5 separate regions of the Homo sapiens genome follow, and regions 1, 2, 3 and 4 are each linked to region 5. Evidence: fine-mapped expression QTL. A gene starts in region 5. Each other region holds a variant in brackets. All regions are shown on one strand. Distances are from middle to middle.

Region 1 (4,384 bases), 38 kb before region 5:
ACTATGGGCTTTGGTTAATAATGTGTCAGTATCAATTCATTAACATAAGATGTTAATAACAGAGGACACTGGATGCAGGTGTATGGGAATTCTACATATTGTCTCAATTTTTCTATAAATCTAAAAACTGCTCTAAAAAGTATATTTTTAAAAAATTTATGTGGAAATACAAAGGACCTGCAATGAGCCAAAACAACAACCACCACCCTGAAAAAGAACAAGTACATAGGTGACTTATACACTGATTTCAAGACTTGCTATGAATGTAGAATAATCAGGACAGTGTGATATTTGCATATGGATAGACAAAAAGATAAATGGAATTAAATAAGGAGCCCAGCAATACACCAACACTTACACAATAAGTTGAATTATGACAAAAGAACCAAATAAATTCAAGGGAAAAGAAAAGTCTTTTCAACAAATGCTGCTAGAACAATTTGATATCCAGGTAAATAACCATAAGCCTGAACCTGCTACCTCATACCACACACAAAAATTCCAGATGGATCAAGACCTAAATATAAAACTTATAAATCACAAATCTTCTAGAAGAAAACAGAGTCTCCATGACCAGGGGATAGACAAAAATTTCTTTGACAAAAAAAAAGCAATAATCATAAAACAAACACAATGGTAAATCAGTCTTATGAAAATCAACAACTTAAAAAAATTGATAAATGGTAGAATAACATATTTTATAATAAATATACAGACTGGAATAAAATTATATATATGTAGATACATGTGTATATATACACACACACACACACACATACACACATACATACACACACACACATCTGACAAAGAACTTGTATACCCAAAACATATAAAGAACTCCTACAACTCAAAAATAAAAAGATGACACAATTTTTTAATGGATAAGATTTTAATACACATTTCACAAAGAAAGCTGTATGAATGATCAATAAGAATTGTACATTAAAAAGCATTCCATATCACCAGTTAAAATTGCAGGGATATACTACCATACAACAATCAGAATGGCTAAAATTTTAGAAACTGATAATAACAAATGTTGGCAAGGATGTGAAGCACCTAGAACTCATTGTTGATAAGCATGAAATGGTACAACCACCATGGAAAAAGATCTGGCAAGTGTCTTATAAAACTAAACATACACCAACATATAACCTATAACTCAGCAATTCCACTCCCAGATTATTTACCCAAGAGAAATGAAAACATACGTCCGCAAAAAGACTTGTAAAAATATTTATAGCAGCTTTATTCATAATAGCTCCAAACTAGAAATGGTCCTTGTGTTCCGTCAATGGAAGAATAAACAAACTGTTGTGTATCTATGCATTGGAATTCAATGCAGTAATTTTTTTAAAGGCACTATTAGCAATGAGCACCCTGGCACCGAGATCTTGGTTTCTAAATACCATGCACACCAGGCGTCTTTCATTTCATTTCCAAAGAACCAGGGCTCTTTAGAGAAAAAGCTGATTCTGGGGCTGGGGCTCGGGAAGAATGAGTCTGGAGCATATTGTTAATACCAGAAAGAAAGTACTTAAAGAAGGATGAGATTATGTCACCAGAACATAAGAGCCAGCCTGAAAGGGTTCCCACAGGACAAAGTTGGGACTGTGTAACCATAAAATAATAAGAGTACTGTATTATAAGCCCCTGAATAAGAACTTCTGAGCTCATACTGACATAAATAAGTAGGCAAGAAGGGTAAAGCTGTCTTAGTACAGAATGCCAACTAATAAACATAGAAGCAAAAGTAGAGTCATGGCGTGAGTTGGCTAAAGAAAAAAAAAACAGAGTCAGAAAATAAACAATAAAGGCTAAAAGAGTAGTTGCAAATTTAATGAGGAACCAGACATATTGATACAACGTCCTGTCCCTCCTGACATGACCAAGGACACATCCTTTCTGGGCTGCTTCTGACAAAAGTATACAATCCAAATCTAATAATGAGGATATGTCAGGAAAAAAAACCACAAGAACTCACCTATTTTTTAAAAAGTAACAAGATCAAGAAAGACAAAGTTCATCTGGTTAGATAGATGGTGGGAGAAAAAAAGAAGGGCAAAGGAAGGCAAAGGAGTAGACGGAAGGACATGAAGAAACATGACAACTAAATGCAACACAACACACAGTCCTGGATTGATTGGATTCTTGATTCAGAAAAAAAAAAAAAGCCACAGGTACATCAACAAAATAATTGACAGAATTTAAATTTGGTCTAAGGATTAGCTAATAGGCAATATCAATGTCAAATTTCCTGACTCAGATATTTATTCTGGGTTATATATAAGAACATTGTTGATCTCAGGAAACACACATTGAAATTTTATAGGGGAAGAGTATGAGGACTCAAAGTTACTCTCCAATGTTTCAGGGGAAAACAGAGGGAGAGAGAAAAAATGGCAAAGCAAGTGGGACAACAGGTAAGCAAGTGGTGAATAAGTGTGAAGAGTATACAGCCATTCCTTCTACTGTTCTTGCAACTTTTCTGTAGGTTTGATAAATCCAAGATAAAAGATTACCAAAACACACGCACATACACATTACTGTAATTATTCTCTATGAGGATACAGTAGCTCAG[T/C]GATTTTTCTTTTTCTTTTTTTTTTTTTTTGGAGACGCCCAGCTAATTTTTGTATTTTTAGTAAAGACAGGGTTTCACCATGTTGGCCAGGCTGGTCTTGAACTCCTGACCTCAGGTAATCCACCCACCTTGGCCTCCCAAAGTGCTGGGATTACAGGCCTGAGTCACCATGCACAGCCCATTATTTATCAAATGATTTTTTTTTTTTTTTTTTGAGACCCAGTCTTGCTCTGTCACCCAGGCTGCAGTGCAGTGGCGCGACCTTGGCTCACTGCAAGCTCCACCTCCCGGGTTCACGCCATTCTACTGCCTCAGCCTCCCAAGTAGCTGGGACTACAGGCGCCGGCCACCAGGCCTGGCTAATTTTTTCTATTTTTCAGTGGAGACGAGGTTTCACTGTGTTAGCCAGGATGGTCTCTATCTCCTGACCTCGTGATCTGCCCGCCTTGGCCTCCCAAAGTGCTGGGATTACAGGTGCGAGCCACCACGCCCAGCCACCTCAGCGATTGCTTGGTCACAAAATTACTAAGAACCAGGCCTTGAACCTGAATCCAGGCCTTCTGACAATAGATCTTTCCAGTGTCCCTGCCCTGTCACTTATCAATGAAGAAATCACCCCCTTAGGCCATATTGCTGAACAATGAACCAAGTGATTGAGAACTGTGGGGGGAAATCCTAAAGTTTTTAAAGCACTGGTAGTTACCTGTCATGACGACCTACTTAGCCATCTTGTTTGGACACAAAGGAACTGACACATACTTCAATCTGAAAGCTGTACTTCCAAATTGATGGGGCCCAAAGAAAGAGGGGTAAAAAGCAACATTTACATGAAACAAGGATGTTTTCTAGGAGCCCCATTCAATTTCCAAACTGGTAAGTGCTGCGTCTGATAGCAGGTACTCAGCCCAGCACCACCGCTCTACTGAATACTTCTTTCCTTTGCATCTCCTGTGTCTGTGCTTAACAGGGCTGATAATTATGCCAGGTGGATTCACCTAGGATGATCTATTTCAATTAAATTGTGACTGACCTTAATATAGTGAAGACATATAATAGAACCATTTAACTTACACGAATTCATCTACTTGTAAATGTAATATGCATGCAAGTATACATAATATAAGCATATGTACTTAAGTGATATGGCCAAATATTGCACTTCCTGCATAAGCCTAAGCCATGGAATGGGTGTGAGATGCACTGTTCTCTCAGGGATATCTTACTTTATGTGCTTCCCCTAATATGAGCATGTCCTTGCTGAGTATGACATAGCATTTAAAGAAATTAGAATAAAGATGCTAACTAAAACAGGTTTTTAGTTAAAAAGCAATAAAGGAGAATCCTCATCCAAAAATGGAAATGAATAGTAGGTGAGTGAGGAGTGGGAAGGACAGGAAAATAAGAGACAGGTGAATGGGAGCCATGGTTTCGACTCCAGGTGCAAGGGAGCCTAAGCGACAGGCTCTGCTTGAAGCTGCGAGCCTGGGGTGAAGCCTGGAACTGGAAACTTCTGCCCATTCCCTCTGCTAGGCCTCGGACTAAACCTAACAGAAACAGGCAAGACAAGGTGGGAAAGATGAGTACAGGGAACACAGAGGACTTTTAGGGCAGTGAAAATACTCTGCATGATACTATAATGGTGGAATACATGTCTTCATACGTTTGTCCAAACCCACAGATCATGCAACACCAAGAATGAACCCTAATGTAAACTATGGGTTTCAGGTGATGTGGATATGTCAGTGTAATGTGGGCTCACCGATGGTAACAGATGCACTGGTCTGGTGGGGGATGTTGATA
Region 2 (4,384 bases), 46 kb before region 5:
GGCTCACGAAAATCTGCCCTGCTAGAATTTGCTTTTCAAAATGGAAATAAATTCCAACTCTCCTAAGAGGCATTTAATTAAGGCTCTACTTCCAGGTTGAGTAGGAATCCATTCTGAACAAACTACAAAAATGTGACTGGGAAGGGGGCTTTGAGAGACTGGGACTGCTCTGGGTTAGGTTTTCTGTGGACTGAAAAATCGTGTCCTTTTCTCTAAATGAAGTGGCATCAAGGACTCAGGGGGAAAGAAATCAGGGGACATGTTATAGAAGTTATGAAAAGACAACCACATGGTCAGGCTCTTGTCTGTGGTCTCTAGGGCTCTGCAGCAGCAGTGGCTCTTCGATTAGTTAAAACTCTCCTAGGCTGACACATCTGGGTCTCAATCCCCTTGGAAATTCTTGGTGCATTAAATGAAGCCTTACCCCATTACTGCGGTTCTTCCTGTAAGGGGGCTCCATTTTCCTCCCTCTCTTTAAATGACCACCTAAAGGACAGTATATTAACAAGCAAAGTCGATTCAACAACAGCTTCTTCCCAGTCACTTTTTTTTTTCTCACTGCCATCACATACTAACCTTATACTTTGATCTATTCTTTTTGGTTATGAGAGAAATGTTGGGCAACTGTTTTTACCTGATGGTTTTAAGCTGAACTTGAAGGACTGGTTCCTATTCTGAAACAGTAAAACTATGTATAATAGTATATAGCCATGCATGGCAAATATTTTAATATTTCTGTTTTCATTTCCTGTTGGAAATATTATCCTGCATAATAGCTATTGGAGGCTCCTCAGTGAAAGATCCCAAAAGGATTTTGGTGGAAAACTAGTTGTAATCTCACAAACTCAACACTACCATCAGGGGTTTTCTTTATGGCAAAGCCAAAATAGCTCCTACAATTTCTTATATCCCTCGTCATGTGGCAGTATTTATTTATTTATTTGGAAGTTTGCCTATCCTTCTATATTTATAGATATTTATAAAAATGTAACCCCTTTTTCCTTTCTTCTGTTTAAAATAAAAATAAAATTTATCTCAGCTTCTGTTAGCTTATCCTCTTTGTAGTACTACTTAAAAGCATGTCGGAATATAAGAATAAAAAGGATTATGGGAGGGGAACATTAGGGAAATCCAGAGAAGGCAAAATTGAAAAAAAGATTTTAGAATTTTAAAATTTTCAAAGATTTCTTCCATTCATAAGGAGACTCAATGATTTTAATTGATCTAGACAGAATTATTTAAGTTTTATCAATATTGGATTTCTGGTCATTCTAACCCTAAAGTGTTTTCTTTCTTTCTTTCTTTCTTTTTTTTTTTTTTAAGATGGAGTCTTGCTCTGTCACCCAGGCTGGAGTGCAGTGGCGCGATCTCGGCTCACTGCAACCTCTGCCTCCCAGGTTCAAGCGATTCTCCTGCCTCAGCCTTCCAAGTAGCTGGGATTACAGGCACCTGCCACTGCGCCTGGCTAATTTTTGTAATTTTAGTAGAGACAGGGTTTCACCATCTTGGCCAGGCTGGTCTCGAACTCCTGACCTCGTGATCCACCCACCTCAGACTCCCAAAGTGCTGGGATTACAGGCATGAGCCACCGCACCCAGCCGTGTTTTCTTTAAAGAGGGAATTTTTATTTGGAAAATACACACCATCACAACCACGTCAGTATCTCAGTAAACCAAATGCTATGCACTAAACACATACACAGTGTTACCGTCCCGTGAGATTTGATAGCAGGACACCAAGATAATGAATCTACATTCTGAGACTGGTGTTCCCAGAGTTCCTTCTTTCAGAAGGAACTATGAAAAGGAGAGACTTTACATATGGGCATGAGCATTCACTACAGGTCCTTCGCCAAAGACTGGGTAGCACATGCACGAGGTAAGATACGGTGAGTCCTACAAAGGTCACCTGCTACAGCAGCAGGAGATAGATAGTGAGTGATACCAGATGCTATGCAATGTTGAAACACGTTAGAAATTCAACCACACCTGGGTGAAGAGACCTTACTGAGTGCCTCAGAACTCAAAAGGCTGTTCTTATAAGACTAAGCCCCAGAGGCAGGGGGTATATCCTAAAACTAAATTCAAAACTGAAACAGACTTGCTCTAAGTGAGAATTATACCAATCCTGGCAAACTACAAGGATCTACCAATAATGTAACTGACCGCCAGAAGAGAACTTAACACCTTTTAAAGGAAGAGGACATGATTCAGACTTAATACATGGTATCCTACACAATCAGTAATAGTAAAATAACTGGACATGAGAAGAAATAGGAAAAAAACATGTGCACAATCAAGAGAAAATGCAGTCACTAGAAACTAGTAAGGTGATCTAAAGATAGAGCTAATATAAATTATCTTATCTGAGTAACAGAGAAGAAATAAGTTTTTTGAAAATGAGTAGAACCTCAATGATCTGTGAGACCTTATTAAGCTGTCCAACATATGAGTAAGTTGAGTCCCAGAAGGAAAGGAGCACAAAGAACTGGGGAGTAAAAAATATTTGAAGATATGGTGGCTGAAAATTTCCCAATTATTGGTTAAAAATAAGTGTACTAATACAAGAAGCTCAGAAAACTCCAAGCAAGACAAATGCAAAGATCACAGTTATGTATATTGCAGTCAAACTGTTAAAAATCAAAAATCAACAGAAAATCTGAAAGCTACTGTAGACAAATGACACTTTATATATAGAGGAACAGCTATAATAGTAGTGGATTTCTT[C/G]TCATAACCATGGAAACTAGAAGACAATGGAATGATGTATTGAAAAGGTTGAAAGAAAATAAAAAGCTACCTACCCAGAATTACACATACAGCAAAAATGTCCTTCAAAATTAAGATGGAATAAAAATGGAGAGAAATTATTGCCATGCTGAAAAGGAGTAACACCAGATGGACATTTAGAATTACAGAAAGAAAACCATCATTAAATGTGTGAATACATTTAAACTATATATATTGTATACCTTCTTCCCTGATTTCACTAACAGGCTGCTTAAGGCAAAAATTATAACACTGTATGCAGGTTTTGTAACATATATAGATGTAATATATAAGGCAAAACTCCCACATAGGATGGGAGGGATAAATGAAACAATATGGTTACAAGATGATAACACTGTATGTAAAAATCTTACAATATTAACTCTAGACTGTGATAAATTAAGGATGCATATTGTAATCCCCAAAGTGACCACTAAAATACTCACAATAAGAAGTCAGGAGTGGTGATATGCACCTGTAGTCATAGCTACTCAGGAGGCTGAGGCTGGAGAATCACTTGAGCCTGGGAAGCGGAGGTTGCAGTGAGCTATGATCGTGCCACTGCACTTCAACTTGGTGACAGAGTCAGACCCTGTCTCTAAAAACAAAACATTTAAAAATAATAATAATTCAAAGAGGTGTAGGTAAAAAGCCAATAGAGATATTAACATAGGATACTAAAAAAATTCAGTTATTCCAAGGAAGGGAAGAAAGGAGGAGCAGGAGAATAAAAATCAAATGGGACAAACAGAAAAATGATAGACTAAACCAAATTATATTAATAATTACATTAAATATAAATGGGCCAAACACTATAACTAAAGACAGGAGTGGTCAAATTGGATTTAAAAAACACCCAACTATTTGTTTTGTACAAAACACATACTTAAAGAAAAGAATGGAAAGATACACAGTGAAGACATTCAATATAAAAAATATGAACTTACTATATTAATATCATAGAGAATAGGCTTCAAGTGAAGGAATACCGCATAAATAGAGGAACAATTCATAATAATAAAAGGGCTAATTCATCAGGAAGACGTAAAAATCCTAATGGCTCATGTCCCTAAAAACAAAGCAATAAAATACATGAAGAAAACTGACAAAACTGAAAAAATAGACAAGTTCAAATCTTAGTTAGAAATGGGAACACCCCTCTCTCAGTAACTGATTAAACAAATACACAAAAAATTAGTAAGGATACAGATATCTGGACATCATTAACTAACTTCATTTAGTTGACATGTGTAGACCACTAAATCCAGCAACTACAGAATACATTCTCTTTCTGAGTACAAATTAAACATCCATCAAAACAGATCATATGCTTGGCTGAGAAGTCTCAATTAACTAAAAATTTCAAAATCTTACAGAATATTCTCTCCTACCATTTAATTGGAAATCACCAAGCTATTTGAAAAAAATCCTCAAATATTTTGAATCAAATAGCACATTTATAAATAATACATGAATCAAAGAGCAAATCAAAAATAGAAAGTACATCTAACTAAATGACAATAAAAATACAACATACCAAAATTTATGATACACAGCTAAAGCAGCACTTAGAAAAGCTCTATATTTTAAAAGCTTATATATAAAAAGAGAGAAGGTTA
Region 3 (4,384 bases), 97 kb before region 5:
TTTCATCCTAACAGAGAGTAGACACATCCATGAGTTTCCCAGGCAACAGTACAGCATTACTGCATGTCATGGGAGGGCTGGCAAGGAAATATACACAGGGATGAGATAGAGAATAACCTTGGATAAATAAATCACTTAAGCTCGTTCTGCCTCTATGTCTTCATCTCTTAAGTGCAGCTTATATTCCAGCCCTGCCTACCAAGCAGAATCAGTGTGTAGATTCAAATGAGATGATACGCTGGAAAGAGTTGTGTGAAGTGTAAATCACTTACAGAAGTCTGAATGAAAATGGATTCTTGGCTTGGCGCCATGGCTCACACCTGTAATCGCAACACTTTGGAAGGCTAAGGCAGGCTGATTGCTTGAGCCCGAAAGTTCGAGACCAGGCTGGGCAATGTGGTGAACCCTCGTCTCTGCAAAAAGTGGAAAAATTAGCCGGGTGTGGCGGCACATGCCTGTAGCCCAGCTACTTGGGAGGCTGAGCCCGGGAGTTCAAGGCTGCAGTGAGCTGTGATTGCACCACTGCACTCTAGCCTGGGTGACAGAGTGAGACCTTGTCTCAAAGAAAAAGAAAGAAAATGGATTCTTATGAGAATCCCTACTGTTCATGGATTCTTAGGAGATTAAATTTAAGGGGTACAAGCACGATTTTGTTAAATGGATATATTGCTTAGTAGCAAAGTCTGGGCTTTTAATGTATCCATAATGCAAATAATGTACATTGTACTCATTAAGTAATTTCTCATCGCCCAACCACCTCTCACTGTCCCCCTTCCAAGTCTCCAATTTCTATCAGTCCACACTCTATGTCCATGTGTACACATTATTTAACTCTCACTTAAAAGTGAGAACATGTGGTATTTGACTTTCTGAGTTGTTTCACTTAAGCAACGGCCTCTAGTTCCATCCATGTTGCTGCAAAGGACATGATTTCATTCTTTTTATGGCTGTATAGTATTCCATCGTGCACATGTACCACATTTTCTTTATCCAGTCATCCACTGATGTACATTTAGGTTGATTTCATATCTTTGTGCTATTGTGAATACTGTTACGATAAACATATGAGTGCCTCTATCTTTTTAATATAATGATTTTAGAAAATGGATTCCTAGTAAGATCTTTAGGGCCTTTGCCCTAGTGTTCCCTCATAGTCGACTCATCTGGTTTTTCCTGAGCCACTCCACACAGGAAGACAGAGTTATTTTCTGCCTTTCCTGGATCCCACTTCTTAGAATCATATGGAAAGATGAAAGGAAAAAAGGAAAAGGGAAGAAAAGGGAAAGGAAAGGAAAGGAAAAGAAAGGAAATGAAATGAAAGGAACATCTCTGTAAGGACTAGGCACTTTCAGCCCTGTTGCATCGGTGGATCTCGATGGAGCACTTCGGCAGTTCGGGAGGGTGTTTGGTTATCACAGTGACTGGGGATGCTGCTAGCATCAGTGAACAGAAGCCACAGATGAGAGGCATCTGCAACACAGAGGACAGTCTCCATCATGAAGAATTGTCCTGCAATTGCTCAGCTTTCAGAATGTCATGTAGGTAGAACACCTGTTTATAAATCTGAGCCTAGAATCAAACTGCTTTACATAAAGCAGAGAATGTTTTTCTCTGTCGCTTTAAAACGCAAAGTTTCCCAACGAGGGTATAAATCTAGGGAAGTCTGTATTTTGTGTGAAACCTTTCAAGCACAGTGCACCACTTTGAAAAACCCTAGCATGATAACCCGTCAGTTATCAGTACATTTGTAGCTCTCACAATCGCAGTGATTCTCTCACTATATGCATTTACACAGACATACCTAATCCTATCTCAAATGTCAAAAACGGCACATAATTTTTAGTGGAACACTTTCTTGCCATTCTTAAATCCAAATGTATTCATTACAACTAACTATGAGCATCTGAATCCTCCATTGTCTTAATGTGGCTGTGCCTGAGCATTTAGATCTTGAAATACAATCTTTTAAGTTACCTGCTCCCTTTTTTCTCTACAGTTAAGGCATTATATTAATTTTTTAAGTGATATGTGTAGGTACTATTATATTGACCATCAGTTTCACTTTAAATAGTAAAGATAGTGTTATAAAATATTTGTTATTAAAAGTGCAGTTTGGGGTGACGGGGAGAGAAGGACTGCAGTAGTTTGTTTAACTGGAGAAGGTCGAGCAAAAGCTCTCAGAAGCCCCTGGTGACGTGTGCCCACGGCAGATTGAGAACTCTCATTGAAATTGTTTACCCCAC[G/A]CCTCTCTGGCCTTGCTGCTTCCTTGTAAGGTCTGTCTGAGAAGCAACTAACTCTGTCTGGTCTGAATTTAGCAGAGCCTGGGCCCCTAAAGCAAAGATCAGGGAAGATGTCCTAACAGCTGCTGATAAAAATTCATATTCTATCCAAAAGCCCATATTAATCCATGATCCTCCTAGGCAGTGACTGGGGGCAGGGAAAGCCCCTAAATTACAAAGAATAAACAGTATTCTCCGGATGGTTTCTCCTGGGGACAGCGCACAGGGCTGTCGCAGCCAGTGACCTGAGCCCAGTTTCTGGGGTTAAATTTAAGTCCCCCAGGGACCCCTTCCCCCCATCTGGATCCCTCCAGTGATCTGTTCCTCACCCCTGGAGTCCTGGTTAGCAAGAGGATGCTGTATTTATAGAGCATCTTTCTGAGAAGAGCTCTAAGCTCTTTTCGGAGATTAGCTCATTACACGGGTTGGAGCGGGAGGAGGAGCAGCAGGAGGGCTGTGTGTTCCTCTCCCTTTAAGGCAGAGGAATGAGCCCCACATGGAGGCTGGGAGACTTGGGTTCCCTGAGCCTCTGTCTGCAGTGTGACCTCCACCGAGCCACATAAACCTCTCCCGCTCCTGGCTGGCGCTGAATGCCTGGCCCCTGCACCCTGGATGCTGAGCAACAGGAGAAGCCTGAGCTTCATGTGTATTTCTGTGTTTCTCATGTCCAGGGCAACCCGGGGGCGAGCTGGCTGCTGCTCTCTAGAGAGCTCTTTTAAGGACAGGGCAGGACCTCGAACTGAAATCTTTCTGTGTATAATTGTGATGAAATATGCATAGCATAAAATTTGCACTTTTAATCTTGTTTAACTCTGCGGTGTCGTGGTGTTGCCTATATTCACAATGTGGTGTAACCGTCACCACCATCCCTCTCCAGAACTTTTTCATTTTCCCCAACTGAAATTCTGCCCCATTAAATACTAACTCGCCATTGCCCCTCACCCCCAACCCCCGAAAACCACCATTCCGCTACCTGTCTCTATGAATGTGCGTATTCCAGGTGCTTCACATGGATGGAATGATGCGACATCTGTCCTTTCGTGTCTGGCTCATTGCATTTAGCACCATGTCATCAAGGTTGCCTGCTGTGGCAGCACACTGAATTCTTAGGTCCCTCTCTCCTTCCCTCCAACTGACAGGTGAAGCCAGCTGGGCTTCCTGGGTCCAGTGGGGACTTGGAGAACTTTTCTGGAGCTAGCTAGAGGCTTGTAAAACGCACCAATCAGACCAGGCACGGTGGCTCACACCTGTAATCCCAGCACTTTGGGAGGCTGAGGCAGGCGGATCACGAGGTCAGGAGATCGAGACCATCCTGGCTAACACGGTGAAACCCCGTCTCTACTAAAAATACAAAAAAGTAGCCAGGTGTGCTGGCAGGCACCTGTGGTCCCAGCTACTCCGGAGGCTGAGGCAGTAGAATCACTTTAACCCAGAAGGCAGAGGTTGCAGTGAGCTCAGATTGTGCCACTGCACTCCAGCCTGAGTGACTAAGACTCTGTCTCAAAACAAACAAACAAACAAAAAAAAAAAATGCACCAATCAGCGCTCTGTAGCTAGCTACGGGTTTGTAAAATGGACCAATCAGCAGGACATGGGCAGGGACAAATAAGGAAATAAAAGCTAGCCACCCCCAGCCAGCAGCAGTAACCCGCTCAGGTTCCCCTTCCACACTGTGGAAGCTTTGCTCTTTCCCTCTTCACAATAAATCTTGATGCTGCTCACTCTTTGGGTCTGTGCCATTTTTAAGAGCTGTAACACTCACCGCAAAGGTCCGAGGCTCCATTCTTGAAGTCAGCGAGACCACGAACCCACCAGAAGGAACCAACTCGGGACACACAACCAGACCCCAGACCTGAGACATGCCATGGTTTCTCGTGCACACACACACTGGGGAGAGAAATGTGGACTTAGCTTGGCCGCGTACTTTGAATTCCATGAAGTCTGCTCTCAGGATCCTTTACTGTGGATCTTCTCATACTCCTTGCGTAGGGCTGCAGATCTAGCAAATAGAAACACAATACCTGAATTATGGAATTTCAGATAAACAATGAAAAATGTTTTAGTACAAGTATGCTTTCATGGAATATTTGGTACTTATTTATATT
Region 4 (4,384 bases), 27 kb before region 5:
CCTGTAATCCCAGCACTTTGGGAGGCTGAGGCGGGTGGATCATGAGGTCAGGAGATCGAGACCATCCTGGCCAACATGGTGAAACCCTATCTCTACTAAAAATACAAAAAATTAGCCGGATGTGGTGGCACGCACCTGTAGTTCCAGCTACTCGGGAGGCTGAGGCAGAAGAATTGCTTGAACCTGGGAGGCGGAGGTTGCAGTGAGCTGAGATTGCGCCACTGCACTCCAGCCTGGGTGACAGAATGAGACTCCATCTCAAAAAAAAAAAACAAAACTAGAAATGATTTTCCTTTGCAAAAGTTGCCTCTCTGTGTACATCTGTGTACACATCTGTGTCTCTTCATTCCTGATTTTGATATTCTCTTCTAACCTATCTTTTAGTTCAGAAGTCAGCACAATCCAGACCATCATCTGCTTTTGCAAATAAAGTATTTTACTGGGACACAGCCACAGCATTCATTCATGCACAGTTGATGGCTGCTTTCTTGCTATTACCGCAGACTTGAACAGGTGTTAACAGAGACTGTATAGACTATAAACCCTAAAAAAAAATTACTATCTGGCTCTTTACAGAAAATGTTTACTAATCCCCATTCTAATTCCTTAATTCGCCATTCAAATGTGTCTAAATTGTTGTTAAACCCATCCATTGAGCCTTAATTCCAATTGTATTTTTAGTTCTAGAATTTGCATTTGGCTCTTTTTTACAGTTTATTACAGTTCTGTACTGAAATTCTACATCTTTCACCTATACAAAAATATAGTTATTTTAAAGCTCATGTCTGGTAACTCCATCGGGTAAGTCATGTGGCTGTTTCTGTTGTCTTTAGCTCATTTTTATTCACATTTCCTTCTCTCATTGTAAGTCTAGCAATTTTTGATTGACAAGCGACCCTGTCACATAGAAATAATTTAGGTCCATGATCTGCCTTTTTTAAAAACACATTTCCCAACAAATTAGACATCATCATCATACTGTTTTATATGTACTGTCAATATTTCCTTGTATTTTCCTAAACCTTTACCAACTTCTTTGCTCACTATTCTTTTCTGAAACTCAGATCTCCCTTCTGCAATTATTTTCCTTCTTTTTCATTTTTCCTTTCAAAGTTACTTCAGAATCTCTTTGTCTGAAATGTCATTTCACCTACACAGCAGAAAAAAATCTTGCTGGGTATAAAACTCTAGGTTAATCCTTGTTATTTCTCAGCACAATAAAGAAATCATCAATATGAACAAATTTGCTGACAGCCTAACTAATGGTCTTTAATAAAGGATGGTTTTTTCCTCATTCTTTGGAGTCTTGCAATTTTGCTATAATGAATGTAGATATGGGTTTCTTTACTTATCCTGGTTGGGATTTGGTACACTTCTTGGATCTTTCAACAATTCTGTAAATTCTGTAAAATTGTCAATATTCTGTAACCTCTGAATATCACCTCTTCCTCCCATTCTCTCTGCTATCTCTTTCTGAAAGACATTAGAACTTCTCATCATGCTCTTCATGTCTTCTAATGTCTCCTATTTTATTTATTTTTTAAAGGGACTTTTTTTTTTGAGACAGGGTCTCGCTCTGTCACCCAGGCTGGAGTGAAGTGACACAATCACGATTCACTGCAGCCTCAACTACCTGAGCTCAAGTGATCCTCCCACCCCAGCCTCCCAAGTAGCTGGGACTACAGGCAAGTGCCACCACACTCAGCTAACTTTTTTATTTTCTGTAGAGACAAGGTCTCCCTATGTTGCCCAGGCTGGTCTCAAACTCCTGAGCTCAAGTGATCTTCCCGCTTCGGCCTCCCAAAGTGCTGCAATTTCAGGCATCAGCCACTGTGCCCAGCTAAACTCTCATATTTTAAATCTATCATGCCGTGCTACATTTAGGTTATTATCATATATTTATCTATAATGATCACTTCAGCCGTGTGTGATCTATACTTCAGTACTTCCACTGAGGTTTTCATTTTTTGGCTTTTTTCTGTTTGTATTTTAATTTTTAATTTTTGTGGGTATACAGTAAATGTATATATTTATGGGGCACATGAGACACTTTGATACAGCCATGCAATGCATGACAATCACATCCTGGTAAGCAGGGTATCCATCCCCATAAGCATTTATCCTTTTTGTTACGAATGATCCAATTATATCCTTTTAGTTATTTTCAAATGTACAATTACATT[G/A]TTATTGACTATAGCCACCCTGTTGCGCTATCAAATACTAGGTCTTATTCATTCTTTCTTTTTGTACCCATTAACCATCCCCACTTCCCCAACACCTCCCCCTACTACCTTTCCCAGACTCTGGTAACCATCCTTCTACTCTCTATCTCCATGAGTTCAATTGTTTTAATTTTTTGCTCCAACAAATAAGTGAGAACATGACAAGTTTGTCTTTCTGTGCCTGGCTTACTTCACTTAACATAATGACCTCCAGTTCCATCCATGTTGTTGCAAATGACAGGATCTCATTCTTCTCTGTGGTTGAAAAGTACTTCATTGTTTGTGTGTGTACATTTCCTTTATCCATTCATCTGCTGATGGACATTTGGATTATTTCCAAATCTTGGCTACTGTAAAAAGTGCTGCAATATGGGAGTGCAGATATCTCTTCAATATCCTGATTTCCTTTCTTTGGGTACATACCTAGCAGTGGAACTTCTGGATCACATGGTAGCTCTATTTTTAGTTTTTTGAGGAACCTCCCTCCAAACAATTCTTCACAGTGGTTGTACTAATTCACATTCCCACCAACAGCATACAAGTGTTCCCTTTCCTCCATGGCCTTGCCTGCATGTGTTATTGCCTGTCTTTTGGATAAAAGCCATTTTAACTGGGGTAAAATACTCATTGTAGTTTGGATATGCATTTCTCTGATTACCAATGATGTTGAGCACTTTTTCATATGTCTCTTTGTCATTTTTTTTTAATATATATTTTTTATTATACTTTAAGTTCTAGGGTACATGTGCACGACGTGCAGGTTTGTTACATATGTATACATGTGCCATGTTGGTGTGCTGCATCCATTAACTCGCCATTTACATTAGGTATATCTACTAATGCTATCCCTCCCCCGTCCCCCCATCCCACAACAGGCCCTGGTGTGTGATGTTCCCCTTCCTGTGTCCAAGTGTTCTCATTGTTCAATTCCCACCTACGAGTGAGAAAACGCGGTGTTTGGTTTTTTGTCCTTGCCATGGTTTGCTGAGAATGATGGTTTCCAGCTTCATCTATGTCCCTACAGAGGACATGAACTCATCCTTTTTTATGGCTGCATAGTATTCCATGGTGTATATGTGCCACATTTTCTTAATCCAGTCTATCATTATTGGACATTTGGGTTGGTTCCAAGTCTTTGCTATTGTGAATAGTGCCGCAATAAACATACATGTGTATGTGTCTTTATAGCACATGATTTATAATCCTTTGGGTATATACCCAGAAATGGGATGGCTGGGTCAAATGGTATTTCTAGTTCTAGATCCCTGAGGAATTGCCACACTGTCTTCCACAATGGTTGAACTTGTTTACAGTCCCACCAACAGTGTAAAAGTGTTCCTATTTCTCCACATCCTCTCCAGCACCTGTTGTTTCCTGACTTTTTAATGATTGCCATTCTAACTGGTGTGAGACGGTATCTCATTGTGGTTTTGATTTGCATTTCTCTGATGGCCAGTGATGATGAGCATTTTTTCATCTGTCTGTTGGCTACATAAACTTCTTCTTTTGAGAAGTGTCTGTTCATATCCTTTGCCCACTTGTTGATGGGGTTGTTTTTTTCTTGCAAATTTGTTTGAGTTCTTTGTAGATTCTGGATATAAGCCCTTTGTCAGATGAGTAGATTGGAAAAATTTTCTCCCATTCTGTAGGTTGCCTGTTCACTCTGATGGTAGTTTCTTTTGCTGTGCAGAAGCTCTTTAGTTTAATTAGATCCCATTCGTCAACTTTGGCTTTTGTTGCCATTGCTTTTGGTGTTTTAGTCATGAAGTCCTTGCCCATGCCTATGTCCTGAATGGTATTGCCTAGGTTTTCTTCTAGGGTTTTTATGGTTTTAGGTCTAACATGTAAGTCTTTACTCCATCTTGAATTAATTTTTGTATAAGGTGTAAGGAAGGGATCCAGTTTCAGCTTTCTACATATGGCTAGCCAGTTTTCCCAGCACCATTTGTTGAATAGGGAATCCTTTCCCCATTTCTTGTTTTTGTCAGGTTTGTCAAAGTTCAGATAGTTGTAGATGTGTGGTATTATTTCTGAGGGCTCTGTTCTGTTCCATTGGTCTATATCTCTGTTTTGGTACCAGTACCATGCTGTTTTGGTTACTGTAGCCTTGTAGCATAGTTTGAAGTCAGGTAGCGTGATGCCTCCAGCTTTGTTCTTTTGGC
Region 5 (4,384 bases):
TTAGCTAGGTTCACAGGCATGCACCACCACAGCCAGCTTTTTTTTTTTTTTTTTGTAGAGAGGAGGTTTCACCATGTTGCCCAGGCTGGTCTTGAACTCCTGTGCTCAAGGGATCCACCCACTTCCGCCCCCCAACGTGCTAGGATTACAGGGGTGAACCACCTTGATGGTCTGAGTTTCAATTATAAATATGACACTGGGCTGGCTGGGTCAGGCGTCTAGAAAGTGCACTAACATTGGAAGAAAGGGTGATCAGGCCTCTAGTTCCTGTTCTGCTACCGATTAGCTGTGTGACCTTTAGTAAGTTAAGAATTCTCCCAAGGCATTCTATACAACCGAGAGGGGTGGGAGAAGAGATAGTGAGGAACTAGATTTCTAAGGTAGCCATTAAAATCCTGCTAATCCTAAACAGACAATTTTAGAGGATTCTTAAGATTATCTTTCTTATAAAGGAAGGACAGGCCAGAAAAGATAGCTGTTAAAGTCAATTGACAAAGTTAAATCATATTAATGTCCTTTGTGAGCTCCATGAATGCAGAAATGGTATGTTATTTATCTGTATGATCCAGTCTACTGGCACACATTACCTACTCAAAATGCTGGTGTGCTGAACTATACGTTCGTATTTGGGAATCAACTGCACTTTTATTGGAGCTTTCTTTATAGAAGTTATTTCTCAGATATATTTCTTTCCCTGTTGCATCATACACTTTACCTGTCCCCCATTTAATTCTCGCATTAAAGTAGTGAGATACGCACTATCATTTGCATATCAGGAAACTTAAGTCCAGGCTACCTGGCTCTTAGCTGGAGAACAGACTCCAACCGAGGTCTACCTTGCCTGAAAAATCTGTGCTCTTAGCAGGGCGCGGTGGCTCATGCCTGTAATCCCAACACTTTGCGAGGCCGAGGTAGTCGGATCACTTAAGGTCAGGAGTTCCAGACCTGCCTGACCAACATGGCGAAACCCTGTCTCTACTAAAAATACAAAAATTAGCCGGGCGTGGTGGCGCATGCCTGTAATCCCAGCTACTCGGGAGGCTGAAGCAGGAGAATCGCTTGAACCCCGGAGGCGGGAGGTTGCAGTGAGCAGAGATAGCGCCACTGCACTCCAGCCTGGGTGACAGAGCGAGGCTCCATCTCACAAAAAAAAAAAAATAAAAATAAAAATCTGTGCTCTTAACTACCCTGATTTTCACCTCCCGTTAACACTTGGCAAATACATAAAGACCTATCAGCATGCAGCTCCGTGTAACGTTATGATAATAAAAACATTTATTTGGGATGATACGGTCTGCTGAGATCAGAGCTGTGATCCTCTTTTCTCTCCCAGAACTGTAACCTCTGGGGAAAAGAAAGAAGTCTCATATATGTGCCTGGGGGGCTGACTGCCTGGGGAAACGAGGGGGAACCTCAGAAACTGAGAGGATAGCGGAAGGCAGCCGGCATCAAAAACATCAGCCATGGACGAGCAATTCTGCAAACTCTTTGCAATCTGCTGGGGAGCAAAATCGGTACCCAGACAAGTCTGTGGACATGTCTGGCACCGTTTTTGGTGCAGCCACCAAGTGCCTACGAACCCCGATCCCTTGCTCCTCCGGGCCTCACTTTATCTGAAACACGGAACGAAGCTATCTAAGACCTGCCGTCGTCCCTCGGGGCTGCTGGGGTGAGAGGAGGGGCGACACGGGACGGCCCCAGGGCAAGCGCCCCGGAAAAAGCGCTTCCAAGCCAGCCCTCCCGGGCTGGAGCGAGCAGGGAGGGGAGAGGGTGGTGGACCCGTTTTCCCTTCACCCGCTCCAACACACTCAAGGAAGAGAGAGAGAAAGACATCCTGCCACAGCCATACTCACTGCCGGACAACAGTCAGAGCGAAGCGAGCCATGTTCCCGGAGCCGCGTCCCGTCGGTGGCCCCGCGCCGCGCTGCCCCTGCACTGCGGGCTACCTCCCCCACACCACTTCCGCCAAGCAGCCGGCCGGCTCCGCCGCCATAGGCCGAGGCGGCCTCGCACGTCATCCCCGAAGGCCACTCAGGGCCGGGCGAGGCCGACGGGGCGGGGGAGACGAGGGAGCCACGGGGGCCCCGCCCAGGGCTGCGGCGCTTGCGCCCCTGCGCGCCGGCCTGTGATTGGCGCGCGGCAGGTGCGGGAGGCCCCGCCCGCGGAGTCCGCGGTAGGATTCCTTCCCTCGATAGCCGGCAGCCTGCGTTCGGGGCAGATAAGGAAGCCGGCGCACTGATTTGTGGTTGTTGCGATTGAGGCTGGAATGCAACCGTTCGTCTTATAGCTGGCCACTGTGATGAACCCCTCACGGGTGTACAGCGACCAACAGACTGTGTTCTATGAGGTCTGTTAGTCCCTAACCTTAGGGACGTAGCGTCGGCCAGGTCTGTAGACTTAGACCCACCCACCCCAACTCCGCCGGGACAGACGCCCTCCGTGACCAAACTTTAGTCGGGCTCCTTTGAGGCCTTTTCTATACTAGACGGCATCCTCGGCCTGCTGAGCCTGGTTTTACCAAAGAATCCTGCTAAGCCTGTTTATCAAGAGAGACCTCACTGTTGATGCTCTCTTCTAAGGCCCTTGATATCTAGTAAAGTTCCTCCTCCCCCTCCCCCAGATAGCTTACCACGTTCTGGTAATTTCCCATCTTCTCTTTCATCCCTTCCATCCCGCCCCCTGGCTATAAATCTCCACTGGTCCCGGTTGTATTCTAGAGTCGAATTCAGTCTCTCTCACCTATTGCAGTAGTCTTGAGTAAAGTCTTGCCGTTTTTAACAAGCCTCAGATGAATAATTTCTCTTTAATAGCCTTCAGAACGTTGAGGGAGTTGCTTCATGTTAGATATGAGTTCTAAATTTCTTTTCAAAGAATCAATATGTCAGTATGTTCAATTCTTTGCTTTTTACTTTTAAACTTAACTTCCTCCTAAAGCAACCTTCTCTTTTTTATTTATTTATTTATTTTTTTGAGATGGAGTCTGGCTCTGTCACCCAGGCTGGAGTGCAGTGGTGTGATCTCGGCTCACTGCAAGCTCCGCCTCCCGGGTTCACGCCATTCTGGCTCAGCCTCCCGAGTAGCTGGGACTACAGGCGCCTGCCACCACGCCCGGCTAATTTTTTGTATTTTTAGTAGAGACAGGGTTTCACCGTGTTAGCCAGGATGGTCTCGATCTCCTGACCTCGTGATCCGCCCGCCTCGACCTCCCAAAGTGGTGGGATTACAGGCGTGAGCCACCGCGCCCGGCCACAACCTTTTTCGATTACCTGCTGCACTCTGACTCCTTCCCATTACCTACTCCACCCTGACTCCTTCCCATTACCTACTCCACCCTGACTCCTTCCCATTACCTACGCCACCCTGACTCAGATTACCTGCTCTGTCATAACTGTTTTTCCCGCCAAACCACTCACCCCCATCACTCTCTTTAGATTAGCCAATCGGAATTAGTTTAGCCTGTGCGGTGGGGCACTACACAGCAGCAGGGGCCACGTGCGTCAGGGATAAGAACCCCTTCCCCTCCCTTGTCCAAGTGTGCGCTCACCATTGCTCCATCTGTAAGGACGCACCCTTCTATAGAAGTACCTTGCCTTGCTGAGAATTAAAAAGAAAATTTTATATTCGAGTGCTATTTCTTTTGTGGCACTGAAAGTTTATTTATAACATGAGCTTCTCTAACCCTGGGTTTTGTGACAGGTAAACTGGGATAGCAGTACCTAGCAATGTGACACAAGTAACAATAATGTTAGCTAGGTGACATTGTCTTCCATGCACTGTTACCTAAATTCTTGTATTTCATAATGCATTTATTTCCTTGAATCCCCACTTATATATGAAAAGATGTGTTTAGAGAAGAGATGAATGAGATACTTAGATTCATAGGCACACATTTCAAAACAGTCTTACATGTAATATCACATTTGGCCTTCTGAACAATTCTAAGGTAGACAGGATAGGCTACATTATCTTCACTTTAGAGATGAGAAATATGGCCGGGCATGGTGGCTCACGCCTGTAATCCCAGCACTTTGGGAGGCCAAGGCAGGTCAGGAGAATCTGCAGGTCAGGAGATAGAGACCATTTTGGCTAACACGGTGAAACCCCATCTCTACTAAAAATACAAAAAATTAGCCGGGCATGGTGGCACGTGCCTGTAGTCGCAGCTACTAGGGAGGCTGAGGCAGGAGAATCGTTTGAACCCGGGAGGCAGAGGTTGCAGTGAGCCGAGATTCCAACACTGCACTCCAGCCTGGGTGACAGAGCAAGACCCCATCTCAAAAAAAAAAAAAAAGAAATATGGCCGAGAGAGAGACAGCGATTTGTCTAGGCTCACACAACTGGTCAGCGGTGACACAGAACTAGTTTAGAGGTCCTCAAACCTATC

The links. PIP is the estimated chance that this variant, and not a neighbour inherited with it, causes the effect.
Region 1: its variant is the best candidate, but not a certain one, in a credible set for the expression of TIGAR in whole blood (INTERVAL, PIP 0.73).
Region 2: its variant is the best candidate, but not a certain one, in a credible set for the expression of TIGAR in neural progenitor cells (Aygun 2021, PIP 0.87).
Region 3: its variant is the best candidate, but not a certain one, in a credible set for the expression of TIGAR in tibial artery (GTEx, PIP 0.74).
Region 4: its variant is the best candidate, but not a certain one, in a credible set for the expression of TIGAR in pancreas (GTEx, PIP 0.55).

Annotation. Positions count from the first base shown.
Region 1 is chr12:4,356,518-4,360,901 of GRCh38, reverse strand. TIGAR (TP53 induced glycolysis regulatory phosphatase) reads right to left here. Exons shown (of 6, transcript NM_020375.3): 6 at 874-4,384. Among named protein-coding and RNA genes, the nearest start is that of FGF23, 21 kb to the left of the region's middle. The variant T/C (reference allele first, on the strand shown) is at 2,585.
Region 2 is chr12:4,365,110-4,369,493 of GRCh38, reverse strand. FGF23 (fibroblast growth factor 23) reads left to right here. Exons shown (of 3, transcript NM_020638.3): 3 at 1-1,267. Among named protein-coding and RNA genes, the nearest start is that of FGF23, 12 kb to the left of the region's middle. The variant C/G (reference allele first, on the strand shown) is at 2,727.
Region 3 is chr12:4,416,016-4,420,399 of GRCh38, reverse strand. No RefSeq gene overlaps it. Among named protein-coding and RNA genes, the nearest start is that of FGF6, 28 kb to the left of the region's middle. The variant G/A (reference allele first, on the strand shown) is at 2,244.
Region 4 is chr12:4,345,312-4,349,695 of GRCh38, reverse strand. All of the region lies in intron 3 of TIGAR (TP53 induced glycolysis regulatory phosphatase), which reads right to left. Among named protein-coding and RNA genes, the nearest start is that of TIGAR, 26 kb to the right of the region's middle. The variant G/A (reference allele first, on the strand shown) is at 2,184.
Region 5 is chr12:4,318,773-4,323,156 of GRCh38, reverse strand. TIGAR (TP53 induced glycolysis regulatory phosphatase) reads right to left here and starts at 1,944. Exons shown (of 6, transcript NM_020375.3): 1 at 1,854-1,944. The coding sequence starts at 1,885. RefSeq lists a silencer at 1,854-2,233 and an enhancer at 1,699-2,352.